Homo sapiens: one gene and its partners. The protein of the gene in region 1 purifies or fractionates together with the protein of each later gene. This does not show direct contact. Each region holds a gene or a part of one and is shown on either strand. Other genes may lie near its edges.

The links.
Region 2: the proteins of DNAJC3 (region 1) and TENM3 purify together in Homo sapiens (co-immunoprecipitation; 2 studies listed by BioGRID and IntAct, with this or other methods). This does not show direct contact.
Region 3: the proteins of DNAJC3 (region 1) and DEDD purify together in Homo sapiens (co-immunoprecipitation; 2 studies listed by BioGRID and IntAct, with this or other methods). This does not show direct contact.

Annotation. Positions count from the first base shown.
Region 1 is NC_000013.11:95,785,048-95,792,159, forward strand, and holds part of DNAJC3 (dnaJ homolog subfamily C member 3 precursor), read left to right. Parts: intron 1-891; coding exon 892-1,024; intron 1,025-1,959; coding exon 1,960-2,108; intron 2,109-5,825; coding exon 5,826-5,983; 3' UTR 5,984-7,112. UniProt on the Homo sapiens protein: Involved in the unfolded protein response (UPR) during endoplasmic reticulum (ER) stress.
Region 2 is NC_000004.12:182,792,396-182,799,507, forward strand, and holds part of TENM3 (teneurin-3), read left to right. Parts: coding exon 1-1,490; intron 1,491-4,241; coding exon 4,242-4,372; intron 4,373-7,112.
Region 3 is NC_000001.11:161,129,623-161,136,622, forward strand, and holds the start of DEDD (death effector domain-containing protein), read right to left. Parts: upstream 3,046-7,000; 5' UTR 2,929-3,045; intron 2,825-2,928; exon of another isoform or gene 2,769-2,824; intron 1,226-2,768; 5' UTR 1,193-1,225; intron 1-1,192. UniProt on the Homo sapiens protein: A scaffold protein that directs CASP3 to certain substrates and facilitates their ordered degradation during apoptosis. May also play a role in mediating CASP3 cleavage of KRT18. Regulates degradation of intermediate filaments during apoptosis.

The DNA of each region.
Region 1 (7,112 bases):
TGACACTTAGGTTTGTAATAGTGTTAAAGCCTGTGGGTTACTGAGTCATTCGGATTGTGGACAGTTCCTTCTGTTCCCTTTCTTTCTACAAATTTTTTTTTTCTAGCTTCCCATTGGCCAAACCCACCTCCTGATCCCTTTCTAAATGTCTAATTCTTCTGGACTGTTGTCAATCCATAGCTGACCAGGCCGATTTTCTTTATCACTGTCTTTCTTTCCTGTGTAACAACCACTTAGTCTTAATGGTGGTAAGATTGCTCTGGATAAAGTGCTGATATTAACATATTTACCCAGAGGGTATGGGGAGATAATGCGGGAGGGTGGGCAAGTAAACAGCAGTACATTTTGTTGAATGAGAATAATAAACTACCTAAACTCAGTTTTCATTATTATGCCTTTTAAACCTTTTTTTTTTTTTTTTTTTTTTTTGAGACGGAATCTCACTCTGTCACCCAGGCTGGAGTGCAGTGGTGCGATGTCGGCCACTGCAAACCTCCGCCTCCCAAGTTCAAGCGGTTTTCCTGCCTCAGCCTCCCGAGTAGCTGGGACTACAGGCGTGCACCACCATGCCCGGCTAATTTTTGTGTTTTTTTTTTTAGTAGAGACGGGGTTTCATTGTGTTGGCCAGGCTGGTTTTGAACTCCTGACCCTCATGATCCGCCCACCTCGACCTCCCAAAGTGATGGGATCACAGGCATGAGCCCCTGTGCCCGGCCTCTTAAATATTCTTGATCAAAGTTACTAACGGGGTATCACTTAAGGTTTTTGGCAATAATGGCCAAAGAGTGAAGGGGTTGGGGGATGACGACTTTAGCATCAATTTTACAGGATAAGAAAAGGCAATAAATTATAATTTGCCTTAACAATATTATCTTAAACATATTTTGACAGCTATTCAGGATTATGAAACTGCTCAGGAACACAATGAAAATGATCAGCAGATTCGAGAAGGTCTAGAGAAAGCACAAAGATTATTGAAACAGTCGCAGAAACGAGATTATTATAAAATCTTGGGAGTAAAAAGGTGAATTATTAATTTAAAATTTACTTTGCTATTTTTAATCAACTCTGTTTCAAAGCTAATCATTGCTCTTTTTCCTCTCTGATTCATTTTCTTTACTTATGTAATTTCAGTCATATGGATTAAACCTTAACAGTCTTTAACATTAGAAAGCTACTTTGAGTATTTTATAGGCAAGTTTCTTTGATAGAGACCAATAATGCAACAACAGAATTAGTAGTTGGCAACAAAGATGACACTGTAGCATGAATGGGTCCTAAGCCTAGATTTTTTAAGAAGGGTAAAGGGGTAGGAGTGAGATTCCTTTTGGTGGGGATGGAGGAGGAGACGGAATGAGTAAAGAAAAAGCCTTCTCTAGGCCTAAAAATAAAGTAGTGCTTTCAGAATTAAGTCTGAAATTAAGATCTACCTTATATAAAAGTACATACTAAGTAAATGATACACCTCCCAGTGCCTGTGGGTGAATTCTGAAATTAAGTAAATGATATACCTCCCAGTGGTTCGCTGAGTAAACCATCAATTTTTCAAAATTTGGAATCTTTGTGCTTACTATTAAGTAAGCTAATGCAGAAGCATAATTGAAAGTGGCATTCAGAGTCAAATATTTTTTAATACCAAGAATTGAATTATGGTAACTTGGAAATTCAGAAAGTTAAAAAATTCATTGATGTACCTTTTTTAAAAAAGGGAAAGTTCTAAAGATCAGGAGTGCTTTATTCTCAGTAATCTTAGTGAGCGAGTATCCAAGGAAGCCTGATGTCAGCTTTAATGATCATCCAGAACTGTGTATGCAGATCTTTGGCCTGTGATACCATTGGAACTATTTTATAAAACCAGTTTTGTTAATTGCCAGTAGGATCTTAATCAGCTCTTCTGATTTTTATGATAGTATGTTAGACACTTTTCCACTAATGATTATTTATTTTACCACCCCTCAGAAATGCCAAAAAGCAAGAAATTATTAAAGCATACCGAAAATTAGCACTGCAGTGGCACCCAGATAACTTCCAGAATGAAGAAGAAAAGAAAAAAGCTGAGAAAAAGTTCATTGATATAGCAGCTGCTAAAGAAGTCCTCTCTGATCCAGGTATTATTAGCTTTTATTCCTTTGACTCATCCTAGAGGTGGTGTTAGAAGCGAGGGTGGAACATGTGGTGGGTTCTCCACGTGGGGCTGTATAGGCAGTGACGGGTCCTGAGCCCAGTTCCAGAGGTCCAGTTTTATGCCTGCCCTCATTCAGCCCTCTTATGTTGGGCACCCTCCTGTTGCAGGGTACAGTGGAAAGACTATCAAATGTGGAATCAGAGGGCCTGAATTTGAATCTTTTTTCTACTCAAAGAAGTTATCAGAACTTTTTGGTCTCAGTTTTTTCAACACTGAGCATAAGAGGATCTCTCAGGTTCCCTCTAACCTCAAAGGTCAATGATGAATTTTCTCCACCAAGCTTACAGGAGCTTGATGAGGAAACCAGCTTGCCAGGCTGGATTACATGGAGTGGGAGAAGAACAGCTGTCTGGCCTAGGGCCTGCTTTGCCCCATATGTGTTCACCAGGAATCTTGCCCTGAATCATAGGATCATTAGATTCACAGGCTTATATGTGTTTTTTTTTTTTTTAATTTTTATTTTTTGTAGAAATGGGATCTCACTGTGTTGCCCAGGCTGGTCTTTAACTCCTGGGCTAAAGTGATCTTCCCAAAGTTCTGAGATTACAGGTGTGAGCCTCTGCACCTGGCCACATGTGTTCTTTTGCCATACAGTAATATGGCCTGGAAATTTCGTTAAGAGGGAGACAGGCTAAGCATTGAGGTAATACTGAACAATGCTTTGCTGCTGCCAGAGAATTTCATGTTAAGCTTATACTGCTTTTTTGTGGCCTTCCATGTCAGTGGGAACAGCAGCTGTGATCTGAGCTAAACAAACAAAAGAGAGGAAAGTTTTATGTTTGTCAAATCTTTTTTGAGTACTTACTTATGCAGTGGAATTGAAAGTAAATGATCCTTTGTTTTCAAGTAATTTATAATCCAGTAAAGGAGACAGAAATGTACTTGCAGTGGAATTGAAAGTAAATGATCCTTCGTTTTCAAGTAATTTATAATCCAGTAAAGGAGACAGAAATGTACTTCCCTTATCAAGTAGTGTTGGATACATACTGTCCTGTTACTTAGCAAATACTGAGTGGCTACAACCTGCCTTAAGCAGTTCAATCCTCTTAGTTTGTGCAGTGCACAGGTGTGATAGTGTATCAGACTGGGAGTCAGGATCTTCTTATGTGAGAGGGACTTTGTGCTACGTTTTAAGGTACCAGGGAGCCAACCAAGGGGATGGGTGTCCCTGCACAGAGGCATGCACTGAGGAAAGAGCTGCAGGTCCTTTTTCTTACCTCCTGTTCTTCTGTTCAGGATGAACTATCTTTTCTTTTAAAGACTTTAAAGTTTTTTACTATGCATATATCAAGACGTGTCATATTTAGGAATATGTTTAGTAGAATCACATGATGTATGCCAATCTGAAACTTAATTTTCACTTGAAATAAATCTTGGCTATAGTTTTTTCTCATTGAAAAATGGTTACCTCATTCTTTGAGATGTATGCAGACCACTCCACTGAATTTTTAAGTAATTACATAATGTGAATATAGCTGAATTCACTTCCCCTTCCATTCACAGCATCCTTTCTCTGGGGCCATTATCACCCCCACCCCTACGGAGAGTTCACTACTGTTCTAAGTGCTAACACCCTAGATTAATTTTGCCTGTGAGATATCAAAGATATGGGGCCTGAGTCTAACTGCATTAGCTTTTATAAAACAAAGCTGAGTTTCAGATCACCTACAATACCCGCTTAGTTATTAACACTCAGCATAAGAACCCTCAGTTTTACTGGTGGGTTTCCTCCTCCTAAATATGTGGCTTCAGATTAACCTCCCAGAATGAAGTAAACTGGCTTTTCTCTAAGTATCTTTGAACCCCTAAAGGACAAGTTACTGTGAGAGAGCAAAGCGAGACTTGGGATTATTTTTATATTTGCATTTTTTTCTGCATTCTCTATTTTCCATTTATTAAAAAACCTAGCTATATGCTAAGTCTTTTTATTTTTTTTTTGTAAGTTCAGGGGTACATGTGCAGGTTTGTTACATAGGTAAATGTGTGTTATGGGGGTTTGTTGTACAGATTATTTCATCACCCAGGTATTAAGTCTAGAACCCATTAGTTATTATTCCTGATCCTCTCCCTCCTCCCACCCTTCACCCTCCAATAGGCCCCAGTGTGTGTTGTTCCCCTTTATGCATCCATGAGTTCTCATCATTTAGCTCCCACTTGTGAGAATATGTGGTATTTGGTTTTCTGTTCCTGCATTAGTTTGCTAAGGATAGTGGCCTCCAGCTCCATCCATGCCCCTGCAAGAGGACATGATCTCATTCTTTTTTATGGCTGCATAGTATTCCATGGTGTAGATGTACCACATTTTCTTTATCCAGTCTATCATTGATGGGCATTTAGGTTGATTCCATGTCTTTTCTATTGTGAATAGAGCTGCAATAAACTGATATGTGCATGTGTCTTTATAATGGAACAATTTATATTCTTTTGGGTGTATACCCAGTAATGAGATTGCTGAGTTGAATGGTATTTCTTTCTTTAAGGAATTGCCACACTGTCTTCCACAATGGCTGAATGAATTTACACTGCCACCAATAGTGTATAAGCGTTCCTTTTTCACCACAACCTTGGCAGCATCTATTTTTTTTACTTTTTAATAATAGCCATTTTTTATTTGCAATAATGATCTAATTATTTGCTCTAGTGATCAGTGATGTTGAGCTTTTTTTCATATGATTGTTGGCCGCATATATGTCTTCTTTTGAGAAGTGTCTGTTCATGTCCTTTGCCCACTTTTTAATGGGGTTGTTTTCTTGTACATTTAAGTTCTTTGTAGACCTTTGTCAGTTGCATAGTTTGCAAAAATTTTCTCCCATTCTGTAGGTTGTCTGTTTACTCTGTTGATAGTTTCTTTTGCTGTGTAGAAGCTCTTTAGTTTAATTAGATCTCATTTGTCAATTTTTGCTTTTGTTGCAATTTCATGATGGAAACACCAAAAGCAATCTTTGCTCATACCTATGTCCTGAATAGTATTTGCCTAGGTTGTCTTCCAGGGTTTTTCTAATGACTCTGAGGACATGAGCTCTTTCTTCCTATCCCTGCAATATTCCTCTTTATTGCCTTCTCCCATGTCTCTGCATTGATCTCTCTCTGTTCGGGGCTCAGAGGCCCCGCTGTGGGGGCACCAATTGCATGGGAGGGAAAGGTGAACCTCCTGGAGTTGTATGTTATGGAGGCCCCGCTCCCCTCATGTCTGAGGAGCCTTAGTGCTAGAATGCTCATTAGATGCTTGATGAGGTCATTGCCTTACAGACTTTATTTTGGGGATTAGGGTGGTGAGCTGGCTGTTTCATTAGAATTGTAGACTCTTGGAAGTTTCTCTTGAATTATTTTTTTCCAAATAATTTCATTGGGTAGTTATCAAGCTTGGGTGGCTTCTTCTGGAGTGAGATTTAGGGGCCTGAATCTCAATAAATACCTATTATCAACCCTGAACCTCACCCTCCTTGTGGCAAATTTCTCTAGTCTGTTTCTTCAGGGTGGGAATGGGAGAGCCTGGATTTGAATGTCAGGCACAACTCTTGATAACCGAAAAGTAAGTAGCTCCTCAAGCCCACCCACCCTCCTCTGCCCAAAGAAAACATTCCCCCTGCCCCTATACCTTAGATATTATCTGGTTCTTAATTTTCTGATTTCTTTCTAGAAATGAGAAAGAAGTTTGACGACGGAGAAGATCCTTTGGATGCAGAGAGCCAGCAAGGAGGCGGCGGCAACCCTTTCCACAGAAGCTGGAACTCATGGCAAGGGTTCAATCCCTTCAGCTCAGGCGGACCATTTAGATTTAAATTCCACTTCAATTAAACCAACTGTTTTTCTGCTCTTCTTAATTTTTTTAAAGATTAAAAACAAAGAAATCTTGTTCCGGGACCCTAATGAAAAAAAATTTCAAATCTTTTCAGTTTGTCCATGACCAAAGAGTTGCTTTAATAGGAAAAAATCTGTTCTTATCCCTGTCAGATTTATGGTTAATGGGTTTGCAACGGCAAGGAGGCAAGGAATGGTTCTATTTCTGACAGAGCAGCCTGCATCTGCTTTATGCTGTCTGGAGGGAAGTGGTCTGAGGCAGGCTCACCCGTGGAAGTGCTCACGTATTCTGTATTATTTTTCTACACTGGAGCTGAGATTCTTCTCTTCACAGCCTTGCAGAGTAAGTCAGTGCCTACAAGTGTAAGAAGGAGCTGTAATCTTCATGAGGATGGTTATACTTCAGTATTCTTAAAGAGAACATGAACATTTTTGAGCTGTATGTTCTTAGGGACAACTGTGCTTCGATGTGGTCAGTCTCGTCACTTGTGAGTAGCTGTGAAATCTTTAGTGTGCATGTGTTTGCACCTCTGTGGTCTGTCAACGTGGCTGTCACTGAAGGAGCAAGAGACCATCTTTTAGGAACCCTGCCACCAAATAATAATATATCCAGGCTTAGACTTTGGATTAATGTTAAATGTACATTTTTTTGGTTCAGTACCTGAAGAAGAATACTGAAACTTGAATCTATAAATTCCTATGGACCCTTTTAATATTAAACACAACAAATTAAAAGTTGTTATAGGTAAAATAAGTTCAGATAAAATAGTGGTGGTATTTAAAATAATATTGCTGAAGTGCAGATTGAAATACTTTTTAAACAACTGAAGTTCTGAGTTTTTATAGGGAATTTCATGTAACAAGACTGGTTTAGAAACGTAAAGTTGCGCAGTCAACATAAATAAATACAGAATGCCATGTTCTCCACTTCTAAGTAAAGACAGTGGGCAGCTTCTGTTTCTCCTTCTATCAAGGCTTCACCCTATCTTAAAGGTCTGTGGTGCCTCCCACGTGGGACCTGTCTGCTGGTATGTGTTAAACAGCAGACCGGCCCTTCTACCAGATCTTGATGCCTCTGATTTTCTCCTGCCTACAAGAAAATACAGGCAAGGTTAGTCAGGTCTGG
Region 2 (7,112 bases), on another chromosome or scaffold:
TGGCTACTACCGCAACATATACAACCCCCCGGAAAGCAACGCCTCCATCATCACGGACTACAACGAGGAAGGGCTGCTTCTACAAACAGCTTTCTTGGGTACAAGTCGGAGGGTCTTATTCAAATACAGAAGGCAGACTAGGCTCTCAGAAATTTTATATGATAGCACAAGAGTCAGTTTTACCTATGATGAAACAGCAGGAGTCCTAAAGACAGTAAACCTCCAGAGTGATGGTTTTATTTGCACCATTAGATACAGGCAAATTGGTCCCCTGATTGACAGGCAGATTTTCCGCTTTAGTGAAGATGGGATGGTAAATGCAAGATTTGACTATAGCTATGACAACAGCTTTCGAGTGACCAGCATGCAGGGTGTGATCAATGAAACGCCACTGCCTATTGATCTGTATCAGTTTGATGACATTTCTGGCAAAGTTGAGCAGTTTGGAAAGTTTGGAGTTATATATTATGATATTAACCAGATCATTTCTACAGCTGTAATGACCTATACGAAGCACTTTGATGCTCATGGCCGTATCAAGGAGATTCAATATGAGATATTCAGGTCGCTCATGTACTGGATTACAATTCAGTATGATAACATGGGTCGGGTAACCAAGAGAGAGATTAAAATAGGGCCCTTTGCCAACACCACCAAATATGCTTATGAATATGATGTTGATGGACAGCTCCAAACAGTTTACCTCAATGAAAAGATAATGTGGCGGTACAACTACGATCTGAATGGAAACCTCCATTTACTGAACCCAAGTAACAGTGCGCGTCTGACACCCCTTCGCTATGACCTGCGAGACAGAATCACTCGACTGGGTGATGTTCAATATCGGTTGGATGAAGATGGTTTCCTACGTCAAAGGGGCACGGAAATCTTTGAATATAGCTCCAAGGGGCTTCTAACTCGAGTTTACAGTAAAGGCAGTGGCTGGACAGTGATCTACCGTTATGACGGCCTGGGAAGGCGTGTTTCTAGCAAAACCAGTCTAGGACAGCACCTGCAGTTTTTTTATGCTGACTTAACTTATCCCACTAGGATTACTCATGTCTACAACCATTCGAGTTCAGAAATTACCTCCCTGTATTATGATCTCCAAGGACATCTTTTTGCCATGGAAATCAGCAGTGGGGATGAATTCTATATTGCATCGGATAACACAGGGACACCACTGGCTGTGTTCAGTAGCAATGGGCTTATGCTGAAACAGATTCAGTACACTGCATATGGGGAAATCTATTTTGACTCTAATATTGACTTTCAACTGGTAATTGGATTTCATGGTGGCCTGTATGACCCACTCACCAAATTAATCCACTTTGGAGAAAGAGATTATGACATTTTGGCAGGACGGTGGACAACACCTGACATAGAAATCTGGAAAAGAATTGGGAAGGACCCAGCTCCTTTTAACTTGTACATGTTTAGGAATAACAACCCTGCAAGCAAAATCCATGACGTGAAAGATTACATCACAGGTAAGCATTTTGATTCCTTCCCAAGAGCTGGAGGACTACCATCATTAGATTAATACACAAAATAACTGGAAATGCTTTTTTAAAAAACTTTATACTTTACTCAGGCAAAGGCAAATGGCTAACCTTTTAAATGTGTTTATTTCTTTATGGAACCATAGAGAAATCACAAAGGGAAAATGAGACATATTTACTTCCTATTCTGCCTGCCATTGCCCAAGGCCACAAGTTTTTGAAATGACATGTACTCAGTCATTTAAAGAAGGGGAACATGGGGGACCAAAAAACATGATGAACACAGAGTCCCAAAATTGGAGTCCCAATCCCAGCTCCTCTCCCACAAGTTGTGTAGCTCTGTAAGCAAGCCATATGTTTTTTGAGTTTCCATTCCCTTAACTATAAAATTGGGATAATAATGGCTAACTTAGGGCACAAATATAATACATGAAATTCTGCAACAGATAGTAACTACCTTACGAATGTGTCATGTTGGGTTTTTTTAATACATGTGTGAAGTTCTCATGGAGATAATTAAGGTGAAACACAATACAAGGTGACACCATTTCATCCCTGGGAGGTGTTTAATTCCTGCCTCACCACCATTGCCTCAGGACAGTCACGAAGCCATTTCTCCCATCAGTTGCTTAGACAATGGATCCTGTGTCTGGACTCACTTCTGTCTTCTTACATCACTGTCTTCATTGCCAGTGCAGTTCTTGCATGGTGACAATACTAATAGGCATACTAATTTTTCCACGAATGTGGGATAATTTTCAGGGTACAGATTTAAGATCTTTCCAAGTTTAGTGCATGCTACCTTTTTAGTTATGCAAGATGTAGAACATCAGATCCCACTTCTGCCACCATGGAACAACCAGCATGTGAAACAGACAAGGTCCTTGCAAGCATTACTCTAGTTCCCTTTAGTGAGCTGACTTCTTCACTCAACCTCTACTCCAAGAATTCTGAATCCTGCTGCTCCTACCTTCCATTCCTGATATACAGCACCATCATTAACCCCTCTACCACATTTATATTTCCAGGAGGAAGGTTCTTTCCTGTTGTCTTTTTTTTTTGGGCTTGATTTAAGGTATTTTGGTTTTGTTTTGGCTTGTGTTAGATGCTCCTTTAGGCTGCCTCTTTTCTAGCTCAATATTTGAGGCATACTGAGATGTCTGTTCTCTCAGTTCTCAAAACAGCTCTCAACAGGTTGCCCCCTGTTCATTTCACATCTGCTTCCTACCTTTCCAGACTGTCTAAAGCATTTCATATCTCTTCCATGTGAACCAGCTGAAAGTCCCTCCTTTCTGCCTCCTGATTCAGCAGCACCCTTATTCTCATTCAGGGTTTTTCAATACACATCTGCCTTCAAACCCCATTATTTTGGCAGTACTTTTCAATACTTACGGTCCTCTGATTTTCACTGTTATGCAGACATTGTTCAGAGTAACAGAATTTTTGCCCCCAATACTCCAACATTTGGGAGAATTTTCTCCCAAAATAAGGCCCTCCCACCCCCAAACTCATATACACTCTTACATACACACAAATTGTGTCACTTTGCATCCTGTGTGAACCACTTAGGATTTATGTCTCCCCACCACCACTACTACCACCCCATTTCAAATAAAAAGAATACCACTGGTTTTATAGCCATATGATGCCTGGACGAATGACCTGCCAGCCTGGCAATGAGGTGAGAGTCTGTGCCCTAGAGAAGGAAATGGGAATCAAGTGGCTCTCCATCATTCTGACAGGCAGTTTACCACTGGTTATTTAAGGGGTGTTGACAGGGGCTGACTGAAAGTCTGGAAAGCCCACAGCTCCTGAATTCATCCTCTCCTAGCAACGTGGACTGCAGGGAATGCCATAGCAGCATTTTCTGAAAAACATCAAAAGAGAGATGGAACAGCATAAAATATATTAGGTGAAATGCAATTTCAAATTTTCCAGCAATGTGCTTAATATATAAAATAATCTACACCCAACCGTTCTCATAAAGCTGCAAGCCTGCTGAGTAGTTCTGTAACATTATAACCTCCAGAATAGAATAAAAGCCTTATTCTGAGCTGAATGGCTTTTGGAGTCACATGGCAATATTTTAAAATACCACCTTAAAGGTTTCCGGGTTCTCTCCCCAAAAAGTTTGTCTCCACCTGTGCACAGTGAGCCTTTGAAGTCACAACTGATGGTAATCAGGACTTCTGGGCCCTTGGCCAGTTTTGCCAGCTTGCAGCATTCATCTTTGATTAAGAATCAACTGTTGATTTTAATACTCTCAATTTAGGGGTTTTATTAATAGAAAATGGGTTGTGGAAGTCCGCATATCCTTGGGCAATCGCTTTGGAGAGCTAATAACACACAACTTCTATTTGAGACCAGCCTTGACCAACTACAAAATAAATTTCGTTTCTTTTCTACAAGTATGTCTCTCTCCTGCTGCTGTGCATTGTTCTTACCTTTGCTAGCACTGTTACTAGCACAGGCTGCAACTTAGCAGGACTGATGGCTTACCCAGTCTGTCTGAGCATCTATTACTCGCATTTTTCGTAGCATTTGCCATAGTTCTGCTGTGAAGGTTACCGTCTTCATGTCTAAAAACAGTAGGTTTAGATTTGTAGGACGAAAGCAAACAGGTGCTCTTTTTCAGATTATTAATTGTGAAATTGGATTTTCTTTTTAAGGTAAGAATTTAAATTTATGAAAGGACAAAACAAACTCCAACACCTTTCATTCTGAACATTCTTCTCCTAGATGTTAACAGCTGGCTGGTGACATTTGGTTTCCATCTGCACAATGCTATTCCTGGATTCCCTGTTCCCAAATTTGATTTAACAGAACCTTCTTACGAACTTGTGAAGAGTCAGCAGTGGGATGATATACCGGTAAGAAACAAAAAGACCTACGGAAAGGTGATAAGTAGCTTGTGTCTTATCTACCCATATCTAATCAAACTACCCTTGTGAAAACTGTACCAAAGACAGTTTTTAACTTTTTGACTGTTTTAGGGAAAAAAAACAACACTTCCTCTGCATTTGTGTTCAACAAACCAGAGGCCTCTTAAACAGGCTTAAATATGTTTTCAGCAATGCTAATGAAAACATAGAAATGCAGAAGCTCACTTTCGAGTGCTGGGTTTCTAAAAAGAACCCCAAGAAAGCGTGGACCTGAAGGCAAAAATACAATAAACAAAAGGGCAGGGAACTCATATTACAAATTAGCAAACCACAAACAATGCCACAAGGTTCAACTTCTTTAAAAATTAACAGTGTTTTGGCCGAGTGAGGGGGCTCACGCCTGTAATCCCAGCACTTTGGGAGGCCGAGGAGGTCGGATCACCTGAGGTCGGGAGTTCGAGACCAGCCTGACCAACATGGAGAAACCCCATCTCTACTAAAAATACAAAATTAGCCCGGCATGGTGGGGCATGCCTGTTATCCCAGCTACTCAGGAGGCTGAGGCAGGAGAATCACTTGAACCTGGGAGGCGGAGGTTGCAGTGACCCGAGATCACGCCATTGTACTCCAGCCTGAGCAACAAGAGCGAAACTCCGTCTCAAAAAAAAAATAATTAATTAATTAATAGTGTTTCATAGGAAAAGATTAAAAATAAAAATAAATGTCCTCTGGTAAGGCTCCACCTACAACCAGGAAGGTTTATGGAATTTTCCTGAGAATAGCAGATCAAGAGGCCTGTAACCATTATAAGAAATAAAGAAATATAATAGAAAATTGCAAAGTCAAAGCTGCCGCTTCAGAAAGTGGTACTTCTAATCCCCACCAGAGACCAGAAAGGAATGCACAGCAAAACACCAGAATTTCCAGCTTACAGTAAGAATAATTAGAGATGGAGAAACTGGGTGACTCCATGATCATAAGGAGAAGACAGTGCAGACTTTCTTAGGACAATTAATTCCCAACCACCCCTTGAGCAATTTCCTATCATTTCAATGAAAACAAAGAGAAGAGGCAGCCATGGTTAACACACACACAGGCTATCTACAGTACCAGTACCTGTTTTTTGTTGTTTCATACCTAATATAAAAGCAATTCCTTTTTCATAAGTTACAAATATAGTCGTGTGTGTGCAACATTTTGGTCAATGACAGACCTTGTATAAGGTGGTGATCACATAAGATTACAATATCATATATATTTTTTTTTAATTGAAATGGGGTCTCACTGTGTCACCCAGGCTGGAGTGCAGCCTTGACCTCCTGGGCTCAAGCGATCCTCCCACCTCAGGCTCCCAAGTATCTGGGACTACAGGCACGTGCCACCACACCCAGCTAATTTTTTATTTTTTGTAGAGATAAGAGTCTCCCTGCGTAGCACAGGCTGGTCTTGAACTCCTGGTCTCAAGCGTTCCTCCTGCCTCCACCTACTGAAGGGCTAGGATTACAGGCATGAGCCACCGGGCTCTGCCAACACTGTGTTTTTACTGTACCTCTTCTATGTTTAGATACACAAGTACTTACCATGGTGTTACAGTTGCCTGCAATATTCAGTACAGTCACACCGTATACAGGTTTGCAGCCTAGAAGCCATAGGCCATCCCATACAGCCTACGTGTGCAGTAGGCTACACCATCTAGGTTTGTGTAAGTGCCCGCTATGATGTTCACACAAGGACGAAATGGCCTAATGCCACATTTCTCAGAATGCCTCCCTGCGGTTAAGCAGTGCATGACTGTCTACACTGATACAGTGGCATGAAGACATACCGAAGTTTCCTAATGCATTTGAACATGCACTTCCTAATTGTGTATGACTTTCCAACATGCCTGAAAACACCTACATCTAACTGTACAAATGGACTTGCCAGCTCTTTTCCTAAGCAGCCTTTTAAATATGGTTCAAGTTCTCTGTCAAAAGAAGTGCACCATAAGGACAGCATAGGAAATCGTGGGCAAAGACACTGAGGCTGCCCCAAGTACAGAAAAACAACTGTTTCTTTCATTGCCGCAAATGAAACAGATGTTTTCATTTGGGAAACAATGGCCAGACAAACATCTGGTGGTATAAGAAATGGCTGAGTTAAGATGCCCCCAATTTAAAACATTTGCCAGTCTAGACGGTCCACTGTCCCTAAGTCTGAGAAAAATAATTGTTTTCCTAAAGTAACAAATATCGTCTCCAGCTGCCCCACCTTCCACTCATCCCTGTACATTTCAGTTCTGCGGTTACACTCACCATCTTCAGCTGAAAACTCTGCCAGGAGAGGGGACAGAGTTGACTTAAATACAAGCATTTCAAAGCATACGAAGCGGGGCCCTGTGATCGGCACTAAGTATCCCCAGCCGTTCAGATCCCTCTCTGTGTTTGGTGGCTTCTCAGCCTCCTGTGGAGAAAGCTACGAGCATGCAGATCCGGATGAGCTGGGTTCCCCACGTGGGGTGGGAGTGGGAAAAGAGCATCTAGAAACTGTAAGAGAAAAGCAAGAAACAGGACTATTTTTCCCATGTTAGAAACGAAGAAAGCTTTAAAGTGATCCACGATGAGTGAGCCATTTGGGGGTTCCAGAGCATCGGGATCACCTTGAGGGGGAGGGATCTCGAGTGCTCCCTCCACCCGGGCTGTCAGCCTTCTGGTCAGGGAAGGACCCCGGGGCTTCCATGCATGCCCCG
Region 3 (7,000 bases), on another chromosome or scaffold:
AAAATATACTCGTATTTCTGTGACAGTGAAGCAAGGGAGCTCAACTTAAAACATACAGAGATTCTAGATGACAGGTATCAGAATGGTGAGGAGAATGTAACCCTCTGAACAGAAAATTAGAACTAACTCAAGTCTTGGTATCTGAAACACTGCCAAATACCAAGAGACGAAACTCCAGCACACAGAAAGTCCTGATCCCACTGACTGGTCTGGCTGTATTTGAGATAGTAACACATGAATTCTCCCCTACAGTTTCCCAAGAATAATTGATTCTGAGGAATTGTTGTATTTCCTGGAGTTTTGCTTTTTTCTTTAGAGAAGTCCAAGTCAGCCAAGGGCCAACAGTCTATAGGTATCTTCAGGATTTCCTCCTGATTGGTCCTTCTCTACTATGTTTCTACTTCCAAGCAAAGTCTGGTCTCATCCCAACCAGGAATATCTGTAGTTTTTGAGGTACTTGGCTCTCTCAGAAGCCCTTAGGGGAAAGCGACATGAAAGAAATAAAAAAGAGTGCTGTCTTGAAATGAAAATGACAGTCATCTTTTCTGAACAGGGATGATATTTGTAATTTCATAGAATTAAGAGATATCTGACTCTCTCAGAAGTCCTCAGAGGAAAAGTCATGCAGAAGAACTACAAAAAAAAGTGGTATCTTGAAACTTAAATTAAAACTACATAGAAAATCTTAAAGATGGTTAAGAGTACATTCTTGCTGGTGGGATAGGAAATGTAATCAAATATCTGGAAGTCAGAATTACATAGTATGTTTTCAAAAGAAGGATGCCAGGAACCCCCCAACAGCTGAAAGAGAAAGTTAGAGGAAAAGTTTCCCACGGAAGGAAGGTGTCCCAGCAACCCTCCAAGGGCAACATTTAGTAGACAATGTACTAGAATACAGCCTTCCATATGTTAAAAAAAAAAAATGTTTCAGAGCTGACCAAGAAGACTAGACAATAACAAACCAAAGCTGGGGGATTGTCCCAAGACATCTAAATCTCCTTCTCTTTCACCTCCTATCTCCAATTAACTAAAGACAGTGATTACAACAGATCTCATGCACTCAGATGGATGAATGATAACTCATTTTCCCTGGCATTCTCCTCCTCATTAATGGACCCAACCTCAAAATAACTCCCATGCTATTTCCATTCCCTTCCATTGTTTGAAAACAATAAAAAAGTTCCAGACTTACCTCCGCAAGAAACTTAATTTCCCAGGTCTCTTCCTAGCACAAGTTTCACAGCCAGCAGCAAAACAAAAACAAATAAGGAGGGGAAAATAATTAATTTTCAAGTTTTACTTTGAAACCTCAGAGGCCCATAGAATTAGACAATCTCGTTGCAAAAGTACACAGACAAGCCTAAAACCATTTAGAGAACTCACCCCCAACAAGTCTCCAGGCTTCCCTAACTCTCTATTAGTCAATTTACAAAAACAATACCAACTCCAAGAATTTCCAGTCTCAATGGCTTGCGGCAAGACAGCTCCCAAATTTAAGAACTTCTGGGAAAACCAATTACCCTCTGGCAGCTTCTCATCTTCCTCCACAATTCCTTATTCCTATTTTGTTACAATATTAACGTTAACTTTCACCTTTAGAAAAAACTGGGAGGAAAGTGGTTACAGCAGACCAGCACTATCCTCCAAATTCTACATTTGGCCCTTTCCCTTAACTAGCACACAATGAGAACAAAATATCTAATGGCGCAGCATCCACTCATACGTCTATGTTTCACCAGGGAAAAGTTTTTCTACATACAGTATCCATGTTACCCCCTCCCTTCCAGACTTAAAACAGCAAAAGGGTCTGGAAACTACAGCACTCATTTAATTAACCTGTCTAGATGCCACTCTATCTTTTCTCTTTCCCTCCTCAGACTTCCAGAGCCTCCACCTTAGCATATAGGGTTCCAATATAGCCATGTCTGCTCCCCCACTCTTGTATTGCTAATGCTAAAAACTAGAAAAGTCCTTTGCTCCTCCACACTTGGGCGACACCGGCTTCCCCATTTTCCCAAGCAGGAAAAACAAGGGAACAGTAAGCTAGGGAGTCTTTTGGAAAACAAACCCAGTTGAATTCTCATCCAACCCCAATTCTGCAAACCCACATGACCATTCCCTTCTGCCCTTCCCACCCTCTTAAAAGCTAAGGGCCTGGCAATTAGAATTGGCTGCAACTGATGCTGCTTAACTCTGTTCTCTCCTCCTCTCCACCGGGGAAAGGGAAACCCCCGAACCTCTATCACCCGTGCAGCTCCACTGTCCTATCTCCCATTCCACTCCCCTTCCTCCCAAACTTTCTTCCTCCCAGTCTCTCACTTTCTCCATTACCTCCTCCCACCGACACTCTCTCCATTCCCCAAGCCTCCGTTCTCTCCTTTTCCACCCAAATTCTCCCCTAGGCCCTTCCCCCTCCCACCTCCAATTTAACACTTTCGAAGCCCCCCAGAAACGTCTTAACTCCAATTCTGACCTTTACCCACCTCCTCGCAACACCCCTCATCAGAGTCCAGTCCTCCCTCCAACCACATGCCACAGCCCCCTTCCCCTTCACACCCTCAGCCTCTCCCTCCTGCTCCTACCCCCTTCAATACGAGCGGATCGCAGCCCCACTCCCCACCTCGGCCTCTCTAATACCCCTGGCTGGGCCCAGTCTCAGCCCTTGTTTACGCCCCTCCCCATGCCCTCACTCCTCCGTCTCGACCCCTGCCCTCTCCCGCAGTTGCCATCTCCCCTGCACGCCCCCCTCGGCAGCTCCCCTCCCCCACCTCTCAGCGTCCCGTCACCTCCCTCTCTTGAGGTTCTCAGGCTGGACGTCGCCACCGCCTCCCCCTCCACTTTCCTTCCCCAAGCCCTTTGCGGCCCCGCCCGGCCCCGCCCCGTCCCGCTCGACTCCCTCTCCCCACTCCGGCCGCCCCTCCGCCTCACTCTCGGCTCAGGCTCGGCGCCGCCATGTTGGATCCATCCGCGCCGCTCTCCCGGGCCTGCCTCACGGCGCCGCATCCGGGCTCCAGCAGCCGCCGCCGCCGCCGCCGCCGCGGCCGTGGGGGAGGGGACAGGCGGGCGGGGGTGGCTGCATCCTGAACGGCGCCTCCCGGAACCCGGCCGGTTAGTGGCGGCTTCGAGGCCATAGTGAGACATGAGCCGGAGTAGCCATAGTAAGTGAGGGCAGCCTGGCAGCGGCATTAATCGGGGAGTGGATAGCTTCACTTCGGGAGGAGAGATAGAGATTGGCAGCCATCTTGCTTTGGGGCAAGCTGGCAACGCCGGTTTGTCTTGACGGCTGCTTAGGGCGGTAATAAGGGATCGAAGAGGATAGCATTCTTGAATGGGAAACATTGGTGGCGCCACAGCTGGCTGGTGGCGACTTCAAGACCCACTGGAAGGCTGGGATTGGCAGCCATGACTCATAAGGGCGGAATACCACGGGGATCGGTTTGTCTGGCGAACTTGAGTGAAGGGTCAAGATCTGGATTTCACCTTTCCTCTGAGCTTCCTGATAACCCGGACGTTCCGTAAACCCGGATCCGGAGCCGAAAGTGGTGCCCAGATCCCGTCTCGGAATTCATTTGTTCAGCATTTACCTTTTGAACGCCGGTTTCCTGTAGGAAGTGTCGCCTAGCTGATCCGTGTAGGGCTGTTGGGAATTGGGGGTGGGGAGGATGGTGCGGGTACGTTCTGGTGTGGCTTAAGAAAGTGGTAATAGATAGGGGAAGACCAGATTATGCGAAGCCTTGTAAATTAATTGATTTTTATCCTTAAGGCAATGAAAAGTCTTTGAAGAATCTCAGCAGAGGTGTGAACAATTTCATTTGCATTTTAGATCGCTGCGTGCAGTGTGAAGGATGAATGAATTGAGGAGAATCAAGGAGAGCAGTTGTGAGGCTCTTTTCCAGGCAAGGATGATGATGGTCTGCCTGTGGAAGGGAGAGTGCGGATGGGGAGATACAGATTGGTTTAAGAGGTACGAATGTTGTGACTTGGACAACTGGGGAATAATGATACCAGTTTCTTTCTCGTTTAGGGGGGAGATAATGAGTTTTAGGTGCCCCTGGGATATTAGCTAATGTGGGTTGGGAACTCAAAAGAAAGGTTTGAGGTGTGTGTGCGTGTGCATATAGATAGCTGTTGAAGCCATGAAGTGGGCTGGAGAGGATACCTGCATTTGCGGGATAGGATGAGGGAAGCCGAAAAGAACACTGAGAAGGGGCAAACCGAAAGGAAAGAAGAAAACCATAGAGAACTATCAAGGAAACTGGTGAAAGCGTTTAGTGTAACAGAGATATAGTAAAATGCTAACTAAAATATATACATCAGGGCCGGGCATGGTGACTCACACCTGTAATCCTAGCTTTGGGAGGCCGAGGCGGGTGGATCACTTGAGGCCAGGAGTTCGAGACCAGCCTGACCAACATGGTGAAACCCTGTCTCTTCTAAAAATACAAAAAAAATTAGATGGGTGTGGTTGCACATGCCGGTAATCCCAGCTACTTGGGAGGCTGAAGCATGAGAATTGCTTGAACCCAGGAGGCAGAGGTTGCAGTGAGCCGAGATCGCGCCACTGCATTTCAGCCTGGGCACCAGAGCAAGACCCTGTCTCAAAAAAAATGAAATAAATAGGCCGGGTGCTGTGGCTCACTCCTGTAATCCCAGCACTTTGGGAGGCCATGGCGGGCAGATCACCTGATGTCAGGAGCTGGAGACCAGCCTGGTCAACATGGTGAAACCCCGTCTCTACTAAAAATACAAAAATCAGCCAGGCATGGCAGTGCGCGCCTGTAGTCCCAGCTACTGGGGAGGCTGAGGCACAAGAATCGCTTGAACCCAGGAGGCAGAGGTTGCAGTGAGCTGAGGTCGTGCCACTGCACTCCAGCCTGGGTGACAGAGTGAGACTCTGTCTCCAAAAAAATAAAATAAAGTAAATAAAATGTATCTATCAGATATTGCAACAAGGGCCAGGCACAGTGGCTCACACCTGTAATCCCAGCACTTTGGGAAGCCTAGGCAGGTGAATCACTTAAGACCAGGAGCTGGAGACCAGTGTGGTCAACATGGCAAGACCCCATCTTTACAAAAAATACAAAAATTAGCTGGGCATGGTGGTGCGCACCTGTGATCGCAGGTACTCCAGAGGCTGAAACATGATAATCACTTGAACCCAGGAGGCGGAGGTTGCAGTGAGTCAAGATTGCACCACTGCACTCTCGGCAACAGAACAAGACTTTGGTTTTTTTGTAAATAAAACAAATAAATAAAAAGGCCAGGTGTGGTAGCTCACACCTGTAATCCCAGCACTTTGGGGACCGAGGTGGGCCGATCACCTGAGGTCAGGAGTTCGAGACCAGCCTGGACAACATGGTGGAACTCCCATCTCTACTAAAAATACACAAATTAGCCAGACATGGTGTCGGGCACCTGTAATCCCAGCTACTTGGGAGGCTGAGGTGGGAGAATCGCTTGAACCCAGGAGGCGGAGGTACAGTGAGCCGAAATTGCACAATTGCACTCCAGTGAGACTCTGTCCCCCCAAAAAAGATACTGCAACAAGGAGGTCATTTAGGAAATTTGGAGAAAGCTGTTTTGTAGTTATGGTGGATAGAAACCAGATTGAATTGAGAAGGCACAACGTATAAAGACAGTTTTTTCATGGTGTTGATGTAAAAAGGAGACTAGTGGTAGGGTGTTGCAGGAGGGAGAATTCCAAAGAAGGTGAAGAAGTTTTAGGTACCTGTGAGATAGCTAGATAGATATGTCCTAGTGGCATGTTTAATACACAGATCTAAAACTTAAGAGAAAAATATAAGTGGAGAAAAAAAGCAAGCACAGAATAAATATGACACATTTACACATGCATTAAAAAATTATGAAGAGTGGGCCTAGGAGGGATAAGACTTATACTTTTCATTTTACATCTATCTTTATTGCTTGAAATTATTTTATTATGCACATATTATTTTACAGAAAGCTACTTTTTTTTTTTCTTTTTTGAGACAGTCTCGCTCTGTCACCCAGGCTGGAGTGCAGTGGCACATCTCAGCTCATTGCAACCTCTGATTCCCAGGTTCAAGCAATTCTCCTGCCTCAGCCTCTTGAGTAGCTGGGACTACAGGTGCACGCCACCATGCCTGGCTAATTTTTTGTATTTTTAGTAGAGACGGGGTTTCGTTATGTTGGCCAGGCTGGTCTCAAACTCTTGACCTCGTGATCCACTCTCCTCGGCCTCCTAAAGTGCTGGGATTACAGGCGTGAGCCATGGTACCTGGCCAGAAAACTACTTTTTAGAAAGCCCTGTGATATATAGGCCAGAAATTCTGAAACATCAACATTTCGGTGGTAGTTGAAGCCATAGATTTGGATAAGCTCCCCAGAAAAGAGCAGAGGGCTAAGAAGAGTGCTCTCGGAAATTCCAACATTTAAGGCACAAGTAGAAAAAGAGCTCTTGGAGAATCTTTGAAAAGGAACAGCGAGTGAAGAAGAAGAAAACCTGGGAGATAATTGTCACAGAATCAAAGGGAAGAGTATTTCAAGGGGGTGGATGTTGAAAGTGTCAGATGTCCCCACAGAGGCAGCTGATAGGAAAGGTGCTCTTACCTCTGAACCTAGGTTTCTTGGAAGCTTGGCACAAGAGTCAAATCCAGATCTTGAACCTTTCCCCAAGTATCACTGGGCAGTACAACCCCCAGGCTATTCTGCCCTTATGCATCATGGCTGCCAGTCCCAGTCTTTCAGTGAGTCTTCAAGTCAACACCAGCCAGTGCTGGCACCATCAATCTTACTACACTTAATAATGATACCCTGGCTGGGTGTGGTGGCTCACACCTGTAATCCCAATACTTTGGCCAGGAGTTCAAGATCAGCCTGGGCAACATAGTGAGAGACCCCATTTCTACAAAATTTTTTTTTAATTAGGTGGGTGTGCACTTGCCTGTAGTCCCAGCTATTTGGGAGGCTGAGGTGGGAGGATCACCTGAGACTGAGGAGTTTGAGGTTGCAGTGAGTC